2 linked regions of the Homo sapiens genome follow. The protein of the gene in region 1 interacts with the protein of each later gene in a biochemical or structural test. Each region holds a gene or a part of one and is shown on either strand. Other genes may lie near its edges.

Region 1 (7,095 bases):
TCTTGGTCTGGTGTTCTTTCCGCAGCTTGAGGCTTGACCATGCGGGAACCAGATGGAGAATAAGCGAAGCCTGTGTGGGGCTGTCTCGCCCCGTACTTGCCCATGTGCATGTGTGCACAGTAGGTGCTCAGTGCCTCGTACAGAACATGCTAGAACCCCCGAAAATCAACTCCAGGGCCACTCTAGGAGCATGTGACCCAGACTGTCAAAGTCACATCAGCAAATATGTATCTCATCACGTGCCCAGCCCCAGTACTGGGTGGTGGCAGGAGTGTCAGAGCTGTGATGTGACAGGGTGTGGACAGATGCTAACCTTTTTATTGTAAGATAGAAATCACACCGGATGAAAAGACAAGGTGAACTACATAGTCATTTAAGTTCTGTGTGCTTTAGGCAAATGTGGATATTAAATATAAGGTTACATATTGCTCATATTAATATGAATAATCCCTGCTTGATTCCTTCCTGTGTTTACTGAGACATGTTCAACTACACTAAATAATAGTGATTTTTAAAAAACTTTTCCAAACAGTACAATTTTGTGGGAGTGGTACTCAAAGAGAACAAGAATATAAAATCACTCTGAAGTTATAGCTGATAATTTTTTCTAGGAAAAGGACTGGTTTGAGTAATGTACTGTGTTACTAATGACCACGTTGAAATTCTGGAACTTGAATCTGCTGTATTCTAACATTGTCAACTTTTTTAAAACAGCTGTTGTTGGCCTACTGTACCCCTGTATCGACAGTCACCTCGGAGAACCCCACAAATTTAAGAGAGAATGGGCCAGTGTCATGCGCTGCATAGCAGTTTTTGTTGGCATTAACCACGCCAGTGCTGTATCCTTAATTTTCTGTGCTACGTCCAGAGTATCTTCTTAGGTTATATATTGAAGCGTTTTGTTTTGTTATATACTCAAATGACTCCATGTCATAATACAGACATGATGGTGGTACCTACCCATTTCAGATTACTAAAAAGAGAAAGAAGAATGGGGCTATCGATGACTTCATAGTAAAATATATTGTTTTATGGTCAAAATAAATATATATTTATTTATATTTTTATATATATTATATATATTTTTAAATATATATAATATATATAATAAATATATATTTATATAAATATATATAAGCACTTTATATATAGCTTTCAGCAAGTTTATTCTTATGGTTAAGTTTTTGACTCAGTGATGGCAGGGAGATTTCAGGTGATCTTAATGATTACTGTAACCTGTATCCAACAAATCCTTTCTTTAGCTTATTACACAGTTTTTATGGACAGTGAATTATCTGTGGTACAATAATAAAATACCCATGTTTTTAACCCTTGTGGTTTTACGTTTTTTTATCTTAATAAGAGTCAGCAAACTTTTCCTTAACTTTTATATCACCAGAAATTGGATTTTGCCAATAATGTCCAGCTGTCCTTGACTTTAGCAGCCCTATCTTTGGGCCTTTGGTGGACATTTGATCGTTCCAGAAGTGGCCTTGGGCTGGGGATCACCATAGCTTTTCTAGCTACGCTGATCACGCAGTTTCTCGTGTATAATGGTGTCTATCAGTAAGTGTGTGTTTTCAAATATTGGCTTTGGAAAGCTTACTTAACTTTCATTAAAACATCCACTAAGCTTAGATATTTTCATATTTTATTTGTTTTTTATATAGAATGATACAGATTTAGGCATGAAATTCTCAAAAATGCTGCTATCCATAACTTAATGTAACGCAAAGGAAAACCAAGTAGTAGCAGTTACAACCAAACAAATATGAACATTCGTAACATTGGATGGTTGATATGCGTTCTGCATATCCCCACTACAGAGAATCTGTGATGTAGAATTGAGCCAGGTGAAATTGACTGCTAAGGTACAGTTTCTTTTCTCGCTCCAGGTATACATCCCCAGATTTCCTCTATATTCGTTCTTGGCTCCCTTGTATATTTTTCTCAGGAGGCGTCACGGTGGGGAACATAGGACGACAGTTAGCTATGGTAAGTGAAATGATCATATTATCTTCTAAAACTTGCGTCTCTTTACCTTGATAGAATGACTTTACATGATACATTCAAATTTGCGTTCATATATTCTGGTTCAGACTTGAGTGACAACTACTGAGAAAAGCTTATATTTAAAAAAATAGGTAATGATACCCAGGTAATTCTTTGCTAAATTATAAAAATTCATAATATTTGATCTAGAAAAGGAACTAGAGCCCTCGCACTGCCCCTTTGAATTGCAGATGTGGTCAGTGTTCTGAATTCTTGAAATTTCTGTAGTAAGCAGTAGAGAAAGTGACTGGTGTGTGAGTGTCCCCTCCTCCTTCACCATCGGAAGCAGATCTGGATGACCTCATGCAGTGATACTTTGCTCCCTGAGCATCAGTCCACCAGTGTTTCTTTTCACAAAATCAGAGTGGATGCAGATGATGCTGGCCTCTTAGTCCACAGTCAAGCAAATCGAGCCTGAGGCTGCAGAGTCTGTCTCGGGCCAGGGCAGGGACTAATGTGGGTGGGCAAGGGGACAGCCTGGTTCAGGCAGGCAGCACCTTTCTGTGGGGCAGGTGGCCCTGGGCATGGAGAAGTGGTGATGAGAGCACCGCTGCACGTGGCCGGGTCACCATGTAGACGGACTGTCCTGCCTGAACATTGCATCTGTTCTCAGCTGCAGGAGAAAGCAGTGCTACCCCGCAGAGCTTCTCTCACAGCCCCCCTGAGGGAGACGGAAAGGTAGTGAACTCCAGGATGGCTTTAGCAGTTCTCATTAGTTAAAAATTGACATCTTAGCACTTCAATTTAAAAACATAGAGGTGGACTTTTAAATGTTATTTTGAGTTGACTTTGGCAGGCTGAAAGAAAGTAAATTAAAAAAAACAACAAAAACCTAGAGCTGTTGCTCTCGGAGATAAGCTCTGGGAAAACTTATCTTAGTACCTCATGCTATTTTTAAAACAGTACATTTATTTTTGCCAGCTGATACCCTTCTGTGAGGAGTTGAATTTGAAGACCACTTGGCTGTTTCACAAAACCAGAAGTAATTACAGGTAGAATTTGCAGTCTTCCACTGGTTACTGACTCTCTGCTGCCAAATTTCTCATGATGGAGAAGAAAGGACTTTGCTTGCCTTTTTTTTTTTTTTTTTTTTTTGAGACAGAGCTCTGGAGTGCAGTGGTGCCATCATAGCTCACTGTAACCTTGAGCTCCCGGACTCAAGCAATCCTCCCGCTTCAGCGTCCCGAGTAGCTGGGATTACAGGCACATGCCACCATACCCGGCTAACTTTTTTGCTTTTTGTGGAGATGTTATCTCCCTGCCTTGTCCAGGCCGGGCTCGAACTCGTGGGCTCAAGCCATCCTCCCACCTTGGCCTCCCAAAGCACTGGGATTATAGGCGTGAGCCTGGCCTTGCTTTTTTTAATATTAAAAATCTGGTCGGATGGTCCCACATGGAAATAGTATGTTGTTTTCATGCATTCGCCATCATCCCCGTTAATAGTCTTCAAAGGAGAGCTGGCAACTCCATCATTGCTTTCTTGCTTTGAGATTTTTGTTTCGGTACTCTTTGGGAGAGAATTCCTAAGAAGGTTTTTAGAATAAAATTGTCCTCAACCAGATTGACTAATTACACATTATAACTACAACTTGAATAACATTTAAAGAGTTGGTTATTTCTGTTTGATAGGTTGGTGCTGTTATATGTCAAGGCTTTTTAAATCGGTTTTAAGAAATAAGCATTATTTTGGTGGAGGTAGAAATTTCACAACATTCATAAGTTCTAAACATCTAGAAATGGTTGGAGGAAACATTTTCGTTTTGAAGATAGTTTCATTAAGTAATCCCTGCTGTGCTCCTTTGCTTACAGAAAAAAATGTTAAAGATAACTCAAAATAGGATAGTTGGTGTAATTATAATTCTCCTTACTTCAGCTTTCTCTTCATCCTTTTTATTCTTTAAGCTTGGGGGAAAATGTTTGGATGTTCTCGTATCTTAAAACTGGAGGAGAGAGGCTGGGCGCGGTGGCTCACGCCTTTAATCCCAGCACTTTGGGAGGCTGAGGCGGGCGGATCACGAGGTCAGGAGATCGAGACCATCCTGGCTAACACAGTGAAACCCCGTCTGTACTAAAAATACAAAAAAAAAAAAAAAATAGCCAGGCGTGGTGGTGGGCACCTGTAGTCCCAGCTGCTTGGGATGCTGAGGCAGGAGAATGGCGTGAACCCGGGAGGCAGAGCTTGCAATGAGCCGAGATTGTGCCACTGCATTCCAGCCTGGGTGACAGAGCAAGACTCTGTCTCAAAAAAAAAAAAAAAAACTGGAGAAGAGAGATCACCACCTTAATCCCCTTCCCTGCTGGGCTATCACATGAAACTGACCTCTGAGGTTCTAAGCCTAACCCGCCTACCACTGTTTTTATTCATAAATACTTAAATCCTTACCTCTGGATCCCAACTGTTACTCTTTTTTTCACTTCAAAATTTGCAAACTCATTTCTATCCATCAAACCCCGGAAATGGCCCAGGGGCTTCACAGTGCAGTCCCCTCCCTCCTGCTGCATCCGTTCCTCAGGCTGTGCCCCAGGTTGCATTCGTGGTGCGTGTTTTCTCCCAGGGCAGCCTTCCCCACATTCCACTCTTGTCATACTGTTGACTCACAAAATGGAAGTGGCTGAATGTTCCAGGGATAGTGTCTAAGAGCTATTGGTTTAAGGTTGAAACCTACACCAAGTAAGGCTTTGTGAAGGGAGATGACGAGAGTGAAGTTGTTGACAGTCTGAAGGTGAAGAGATTCCGAGGCTCAGTTCAGCACCGGGACCAGACCCGCCCAGATCCAGGGTAATTTGAGGTCTGTGTTTGGTGCTGATGGTTTTGCCCAGTGCACTCCACACCCTCTCCTTCTTAGCTGTCTCAGTTCTCTTCAGATGCCTTTGTTCTAACTTATGCTTCCCTCCCTTAAGAAGAAACATAGTTACTTGCAAGAATAACCATGCTCAAAAGTTACAAGTTGGCTTTGCTTCAAGTTATATGGTCTCCTAGCTTTTTCTATGTGGTATTTCCCCCCACACATGCCGTTGTCCTTTGTGTCCGAAAATACAGCAGAAACATTTGTTATCAGCCTGTTACGGTTTTTTTGTTTGCTTTTTGTTTGTTTTTATTTTTACTTTTTTTGAGACGGAGTCTTGCTTTGTCACCCAGACTAAAGTGCAGTGGCACAATCTTGGCTCACTGCATTTGAACCGTCTCCCAGGTTCAAATGATTATCCTGCCTCAGCCTCCCAAGTAGCTGGGATCACAGGCGCCCACCACCGCACCTGGCTAATTTTTCTGTTTTTAGTAGAGACGGGGTTTCGCCACGTTGGCCAGGCTGGTCTCGAACTCCTGACCTCAGGTGATCCACCTGCCTCTGCCTCCCAAAGTGCTGGGATTACAGGCATGAGCCACCGCGCCCGGCCCAGCCTGTATGTTTAAAAGAAAATGAGTCTGTAACCATCATTTATAGAACTTGTAGTTGTTGCTGTTTGTAGCTTCAAGTCCTTTCTCAAGAGTAAGCTGCAAACTGCCAACAGCAATCAAGCCTGTCCTGCTGCCACTGCCCGGCCCCACTGGGCCACCTGGAGGCAGAGTCCCGCCCACCTCAGTGTCAGCTTGGGATTTGATTTGCCGTTCCTGTTTTTGATTGACCCAATTCAGCTGCTAATGATAATAATACTATTATTGTTATTGAGGGTTTACATTTGTTGGGCTCTTACTGCTGCACAGGAGGCATTGTGCTGAGCGTTTCCATTGTTAGCCAGTTTAGTCCTCATAACACAAGTCTTTGAAGTAGAAACTATTATTAGCCCATTTTTAAAAGGGGAAATTGCAGCTTAGGAAGATTAAACAACTTGGCCAAGTGGGTGGCAGAGGTCGACGTGGCACCGTGCTTCTCATTAGCATACCACACTGCCCTTTCAACACATAGCTCGCACCTGCCTTCACCCTGGAAGCAGGTTTACAGCAGCCTGTGTTGGTGTCTGGGTTGCCATTTACAATGTGCCACCATTAGGCAACACTGCTGGAAGTCCCTGTGCCACGTGTCAGGTCCGCCCGGGCTGGCTGTCGTTCGTCTCTGGCGTCTTTGCCAGGCCTCACTGTGGCCTCTGTCGACCAGGGATTCTAAAAGTCCACTTCCCATTTATTTATCAGCACATTAGTGAACAGGGAGTCAAATGTGATGACCAGTTTTCTTTCCAGGTTGCTGCCAAGAGTTTGCTCTTTTGTTTTCTCACCGCAGTTTGTATAGAACCCTCCCAGTGTTCATATCTAAAAATTGGCAGTGCTTTCACATGATCAATTCCTAAAAGCATGTATGTTTCCTAGAAGGTCTTATTGTGTGTGTCCCCAGGGTAGTAACTGGCATACCTGGGTGACTCAACCCAGACTCATGACTTTCTTACCTGTCTGTTCAGATGAGAGGCTCTTGCTGTTTTCTGGATGAGTAATCTCCGTCATTGCTGAAGGTGAGGAGCTCAGCTCCTTCCTCTTAAAGTGAGTGGAGGGCAATTAAGTAACGTGGGAAGTCACGATTCTGAGGGAAAAAAATTCTGTATGGAGGTTTCTCTTTTGCCCTTTAGCAGAAGCTCCGTGGCCTCAGGAAGGTCATTTAATCTCTCTGGCTTTGCTTCTTCATCAGTGAAATACTGTTCTCCATTAAGAATTTACCCTGAGGTGCCTGGTCATAGTAGTAACTGTAGTGTCTACCTCTCAGAAGCTCTGTGAGGGTCAGATGAGGAAGAACATGTAGAAAGGATTTCCCAACTGTGAAGCTCTGTGTGAATTGAGGGCACACAGAGCTTCAGTATTACAAAGCATGACCTATTTCCAATGTCTGTTTCAACAAACTGCTGGTAAGGTGGGTTATAACACAGGCATCAGATACTAATAAAGGTTTGTGGCAGAAACCTCCCTTCAGATAAAGGTTCAATCCCTTAAATTGCAGTTAGAACTTTCAGGAACCTATCATACCCTAAGCATCACCATGCTTTGATAAAATTGGGTGTTTCCTTTATATAGATATTAATTTAGTTAAACTTTCACCAATATCTTACACTTATATAACA
Region 2 (6,896 bases), on another chromosome or scaffold:
TTAGTTCACACCTTTTTCTTTTTTTCTTTTTGTGACGGAGTTTCACTCTTATCTTCCAAGCTGGAGTGCAATGGCGTGATCTCGACTCACTGCAACCGCCGCCTCCCAGGTTCAAGTGATTCTCCTGCCTCAGCCTCCCAAGTAGCTGGGATTACAGGTGCGGGCCACCATCCCTGGCTAATTTTTCTATTTTTCATAGAGACGGGGTTTTACCATGTTGTCCAGGCTGGTCTTGAACTCCTGACCTCAGATGATCCACCCACCTCGGCCTTCCAAAGGGCTGAGATGACAGGCATGAGCCACCGCGCCTGGCCAACACCATTTTTAAATGGGGGGATTTCACATGGAAATCCAAATGTGTAGAGTTTTTCTTTTCAAATTAGCATATTTTACTTTTTAAGGTGTACAATGTGATGTTTTTCAAATAAAATGTATCATGTAGGACATGATGTTTTGAAATATGTGTACTTTGTGGAATGGCTAAATCAAGCTGATGAACATATGCATCACCTCACATTTTTTTGGGGGGGTGAGAATGTCTGTGCTCTGAAAAAAAAATGGGCAGTTCCGGCAATACATGGAAGCCATCCTCCACAGCTAAAAGGCAGAAACCGTCTGTTTTTTGTTTTGTTTTGTTTTTGTTTGTTTTTTTGAGACAGGGTCTTGCTCTGTTACCCAGGCTGGAGTGCAGTCATGACTATGGCTCACTGCAACCTCTGCCTCCCGGGTTTAAGTGATCATCCCTGCCTCAGCATCCTAACTAGGTAGAACTGCAGATGCGTACTAACACACTCAGCTAACTTTTTTTTTTTTTTTGAGACAGAGTCTCGCTCTGTTGCCCAGGCTGGAGTGCAGTGGCACGATCTCGGCTCACCGCAACCTCTGCTTCCCAGGTTCAAGCGATTCTCCTGCCTCGGCCTGGGACTACAGGCATCTGCCACCATGCCTGGCTAATTTTTTTTTATTTTTAGTAGGGACAGGGTTTCACTGTGTTAGCCAGAATGGTCTTGATCTCCTGACCTCAAGATCTGCCCGCCTCAGCCTCCCAAAGTGCTAGGATTACAGGTGTGAGCCACCGTGCCCGGCCCACACTTGGCTAATTAAAAAAAAAAAAAAAAATTGGTAGAGGCAGTCTCACTATATTGCCTAGGCTGGTCCCCAACTCCTAGGCTCAAACAATCCTCCCACCTTGGCCTCCCAGAATGCTGGGATTACAGGCATGAACCACCGCGTCTGGCCAAAAACCACCTTTGGACAGGGAATGGACACTCCGGCTTTTCATATTTTGTCCCCACACGGAGACACATTAAAGTAGAGTTTTAAACAAATGAATTATTTCTTGTAACCTAATCTTTATTGAAAGAAGAAAACAGGGCCAGGTGCGATGGCTCACGTCTGTAATCCCAGCACTTTGGGAGGCCGAGGCGGGCGGATCCCGAGGTCAGGAGATCGTAGACCATCCTGGCTAAGACGGTGATACCCCATCTCTACTAAAAATACAAAAAAAAAATTAGCCGGGCATGGTGGCAGGCACCTGTAAGCCTCAGCTACTCAGGAGGCTGAGGCAGGAGAATGGCATGAACCCAGGAGGCAGAGCTTGCAGTGAGCCAAGATCAGGCCACTGCACTACAGCCTGGGCGATAGAGCAAGACTCCGTCTCAAAGAAAAGAAAGAAAGAAAGAAGAAAACAGAAAGATAGAAAAAGAAAGTGTAACTTTCTTTGAGGAAGTGAAGAAATATTCAATGGTGTTTCATATAACTACAAATTAGGTCTGTTGAAAGAATATGTTACCCAGGCTGGAATGCAGTGGTGTGATCACAGCATACAACAGCCTTGAACTCATGGCCTCAAGTGGTCCTCTCACCTCAGCCTCCCGAGTAGCTGGGACTACAGGCATTTGCCACCATGCCTGCTGGCAAGTATATATCTTAAGTGAGAATTACACAATTCCTGAGGACATCTGACTTTGCCAACCCTCATTTAGTTTATCTGAACCCAACGTTATTGGTGAGATTGAACAACACTGAGTTTCCTTTGAGCTTTGAGCTGCTGTAATAAATTCTCTATAGAGTAGCAGCTATCTGCTTCCGATTTTACCTTCGGGGGTTTTTACTTAATTGACATATTATTTATTTATTTATTTATTTTTGAGACGGAGTCTCACTCCGTCGCCCAGGCTGGAGTACAGTGGGGCAATCTCAGTTCACTGCAACCTCCGCCTCCCAGATTCAAGCGATTCTCCTGCCTCAGCCTCCCGAGTAGCTAGGACTACAGGCGTGCGCCACCAACCCTGGCTAATTTTTGTATTTTTAGTAGAGACAGGGTTTCGCCATGTTGGCCAGGCCAGTTTCGAACTCCTGACCTCAAGTGATCCGCCCGCCTCGGCCACCCAAAGCGCTGGGATTACAGGCGTGAGCCACAGAGCCCGGCCGACACCATTTTTAAACGGAAAGATTTCATATGCAGATCCAAATTTGCAGGGTTTTTGTTTTGTTTTGTTTTGTTTTTCCAATTAGCACTTTTTGGGGGTTGTGTTTTAGGGCGTACCATGTGCTGTTTTTCCAGGACGTCGTGGTTTGTGCAGACCTGGTAAGACCTGATAAGTCCTGAAAGAAGTAGCCAAAATTTCATGTACTCTTCACAGAACCAGCTCTCAAAGCCTTTTCTGTCTCACCGGATCAACCCTGCAAGGGGACGAGGGTGGGGCGCAGGCGGCCGAGAGCCTTGCTGAGAATCACACAGGTGGTCAGTGGAAAAGCGTGTACCAGACCCAGGCCTCTCTGGAAGGTGGGCAGAGGAGGCGTTCGGCGGGAGAGGTGGAAATGAAAACGGGAAATCTAAAGAGAGGTGGCGGACTAGAAGGGGCAAGGGACGTGCAGAGGAAGATAGAGATTGAGGGGTGGTGATAGGGTAGTGTAAGCAGCAGAAGGGAAGGGCAGGGGACTGCCTCGAGGAGAAGGGGCGGCGGCAGCACGTCAGGGGCTTTTGGGGAATCTCATTCAACAAATGGCAAAATGGAGCCCAAGTGGTTTGCCCAAGGATGTCCAGCAGTTGGCAAGGTGGCAACTAGAACCCGCGTCTCCTAATCCCGGTCCAGGGATCTTTCTTCGCCTGTCACAGAGACAAGGGGCCAGTGCAGCGCTAGTGCGGAGAGACAAGGCTCCAGGCACGGAAAAGCAGATGCCGGGCCGGGGTTCCAGCGCCGCAGTCACGGCGGTGGACGGCAAGCTGTGCGGACGACTGGGGGCGCCATGAATGGTCGAGGATCCGGGGAGCCGAGTCCAGATCTTCCTGCAAGTGACCCCGAAGCGGCAATGGAACGGTGGCCGAAGTCTGCCCACAGCTTCCGCTTCGAAGGCGGCGTCGGAAATGCCGCGCCAGTATCCAGAGCCCTTCGGAACCTCCCGAGAGATGGTCAGGAGCTTTTGGAAACTTTAGGTCAGGGGCCAGCGACCAAAAGGCTGGTATTTCGGAACGGCTGCGTCTCCCGAGAAACCTCCAAGAGTATCTGAGGTTGCCGGAAAATGGTTAGAGAGCAGCCGAAATCAGCCGAATGCCATTCGGGATGCTCCGGAGCTTCTCGAGGCACATTCGGGCCCTCTCGGCTCTGCAAGACTGCACTGGAATCTTAGGTCTCCTTTCGTCGCCTAATCTTAGCAGATCCTTTCGTCGCCTAAATGGTAAGAGCGACTTGTACCGACAGTCCCTCGGCAATTTCCGGAAGTGTTCGGGATAGGCCCGAGCGTGGCGCCCTCTGGCGGCGGCCAGAGGTGGCGGGGGGCGGGGGGAGGTTAGTGGGCCAGCGCGCGCAGACGCAGTTGCGCGCCGGCGGCCGTTCAGACCGGATGTGGTTGTGGCTGAGGTCAGTTCCGGCGGGTGACGGTGCGGACGGGTCAGGAGCGTAGAGGCGGCGGCAAAATGGCGGCGCCTGAGGAGCGGGATCTAACCCAGGAGCAGACAGAGAAGCTGCTGCAGTTTCAGGTAGCAGCGAGTACTCGGTGCAGCAGATGCCTCCGTGGGATGGGGAGTAGGCCCCTAGAGGAGTTCAGAACCCTCCTCAGATTGGGTTCAGATCCTTCTCAGACCAGCAGGCCGGCCCCCTCCCCCCCAGACTCCAACTGCCCTGATTCCCCCGGCCCCCAAGCCTCTGTTGGACCCTAGCCTTCCAGCCATCGCTGCGGGCAGACCCGCCTCGTCTGTGCCTCTGTGCCCTCAGCGTGTCAGCTTCCCTGGTTTGCCTTAGCGGCGTCAGTCCTCAGCCATCCTTCCCAGCCCGGTTATCGGTCGGACCCTCTCCGCCCAACGAGTCTATATCTGCCGGAGAAGCTTAGTCCCCACCGCGGAGTTGGCGTCATTTCGGGTCTCTGACAGGAAAACCTCCTGCCAGCATCCCATGCCATTTCCACATACACTCCCACAAACTGGGGCCTCTTGGATACCAGGTTTCGTGTTGGGGGTTCCGGTCGGGGAGGGGGCACCTACACACAGATCTGGTCCCCGCCCTAGAGGTGTGGGAGGACACCAAGTGAGGAAACAATGCAAGATGATAAGTGTCATCAGTGGTCTGTCGGGATTTATTACTTTTGGCTTATTCCTGGATTCCTGTGCTTAACTATGCTTGAGGAGGGTGGTAACTTGCAGAAATGTTATGTTAATACAAGATGTTGTATTAAGAACATTTGCCACTGATCACTTACCCCTGAGCTGGAGAATGGTTGGAGGATACCACTAGGGTGGGTAACCTTGGCACTTTGTTACCAGTTTCCTTATCTCTGAAAGGACTGTCTTAAAAATGTCTACCCCCAGGCCAGGAGCGGTGGCTCACGCCTGTAATCCCAGCACTTTGGGAGGCCAAGGCCAGCGAATCACGAGGTCAGGAGTTCGAGACCACTCTGGCCAATATGGTGAAACCCCGTCTCTACTAAAAATACAAATATTAGCCGGGCGTGGTGGTGCACGCCTGTGGTCCCAGCTACTCGGGAGGCTAAGGCAGGAGACTCGCTTGAACCCGGGAGGCGGAGGTTGCAGTGAGCCGAGATCGTGCCACTGCACTCCAGCCTGGGCAACAAGAGTGAAACTCCGTCTCAAAAAAAAAAAAATCTACCTCCTGAGGATGTTCGGGAGATCAAATGGACATATGGATGTTAGAAGGGCCTTGTAGACTGCAAAATGCCCCCAAATAGTATTTTCTGCTATTAATTTGACTTAGGATAGACCTAAAGTTATTGATACACTTATTTCCTTATATAAAATGTGTAAATATTCATTTATTCAACTATATGAAGAACCTTAGTGCGCAGCGCTGCTAGGTAGAATCCCACTTACTATTTCAGATGTAAGTACTTTGTAAACACTTAGCATACATAACCTCATTTAATACAGCAACCCTATGAGGTTCATACTGTTCTAGTCCCTGATTTACAGATGAAGGGTATCAGGACTAAGAAATAAAATGCTTAGGTTACACAGCTAGAAAATGATGGTGTCAGATTTAAAGCTATGTCCATCTTCCAGAACCCTTCCCAGGCTTCTGACTTCTGTCTTGTGCAACTTATATTTCAGTGTACAGTTGAGTGTGGAATGCAAATGCTGAGAAAATAAATATTTTTTTGGCGAGTTCTCACTTTTTTGCAATTTCCTTGAATAGACTTCACTATAATAAATTTTGAAGTGGTTATTTTTTCCCCTCTTAAATTGAGCAGTGTGTTGGAAGTGTATAAATGGAAAAATGCTGTCATAGATGTAATTGACATTTGATTGGAATTTTTGGTAGAGAAATTGAATTGATGACCCAGCAAATTATTATTAGAGAATGAGTTAAACAGACAACCAGCTTACACTTCCAGGTAGACCACCAATTTCAGAGTGTTGTTTAACTTTGGCAGACCATTTTACCCCTTAGAACTCTTCAGGGGTAAGCTAACATGTGGTTTAAGTGCAATGAAGTAATGTGAGTTATAAATTATGGTATATTTAGTCTCATACTGGAAGAGCATGAATATAAATCTATGATAGCATTTCTGAAGTAAAGTGCATAGGAACCTCCATTTTATCTTCTGTGGAGATCTTTTTTTTTTTTTTGAGACGGAGTTTCGCTCTTGTTGCCCAGGCTGGAGTGCAGTGGCGCGATCTCGGCTCACTGCAACCTCCGCCTTCCAGTTTCAAGCGATTCTCCTGCCTCAGCCTCTCGAGTAGCTGGGACTACAGGCACGCGCCACCACATCCAGCGAATTTTTTGTATTTTTAGTAGAGACGGGGTTTCACGATGTTGGCCAGGATGGTCTCGATTTCTTGACCTCGTGATCCGCCCTCCTCGGCTGGGATTACAGGCGTGAGCCGCCGCGCCCGGCCAAAACTGTGGAGATCTTTATTAGAAGAGAGGTGGGTAGCAGGTTCGAGCTGTATTAAGATTGCCTTATGAAATTGGATTTATTGAGGGAAATGCATCTTTCATTTTTCTATTCTATAAGCAATCGCTGGATCAGATTCATTATCCAGACTGCCATTAAACAAACAGTTGTTGAAACTTATTAGATGCCAAGCATTATACCAAGCAGCAGTTGATGTACATTAACTCTTTTTTTAAGAAAAATATTTTAGACCATGTGTGGTGGCTCATGCTTGTAATCCCAGCACTTTGGGAGGCCGAGGCAGGTGGATCACCTGAGATCAGGAGTTCGAGACCAGCCTGGCCAACATGGCAAAACCTCGTCTCTACTAAAAATACAAAAATTAGCCAGGCATGGTGGCATGTGCCTGTAATCCCAGCTACTAGGGGGGCTGAGGCAGGAGGCTCACTTGAACCCGGGAGGTGGAGGTTGCAGTGAGCCAAGATCGTGCCACTGCACTCCAGCCTGGGCAACAGAGCGGGACTCTGTCTCAAAAAAAAAATTTT

Evidence for each region. Proteins that work in one complex are often made in the same cells at the same time.
Region 2: the proteins of INSIG1 (region 1) and FAF2 form a complex in vitro, tested with the Homo sapiens proteins (one study listed by BioGRID).

The regions. Positions count from the first base shown.
Region 1 is NC_000007.14:155,300,852-155,307,946, forward strand, and holds part of INSIG1 (insulin-induced gene 1 protein), read left to right. Parts: intron 1-714; coding exon 715-839; coding exon of another isoform or gene 840-869; intron 870-1,399; coding exon 1,400-1,566; intron 1,567-1,895; coding exon 1,896-1,995; intron 1,996-2,973; coding exon of another isoform or gene 2,974-3,044; intron 3,045-7,095. UniProt on the Homo sapiens protein: Oxysterol-binding protein that mediates feedback control of cholesterol synthesis by controlling both endoplasmic reticulum to Golgi transport of SCAP and degradation of HMGCR.
Region 2 is NC_000005.10:176,444,489-176,451,384, forward strand, and holds the start of FAF2 (FAS-associated factor 2), read left to right. Parts: upstream 1-3,896; 5' UTR 3,897-3,919; coding exon 3,920-3,982; intron 3,983-6,896. UniProt on the Homo sapiens protein: Plays an important role in endoplasmic reticulum-associated degradation (ERAD) that mediates ubiquitin-dependent degradation of misfolded endoplasmic reticulum proteins.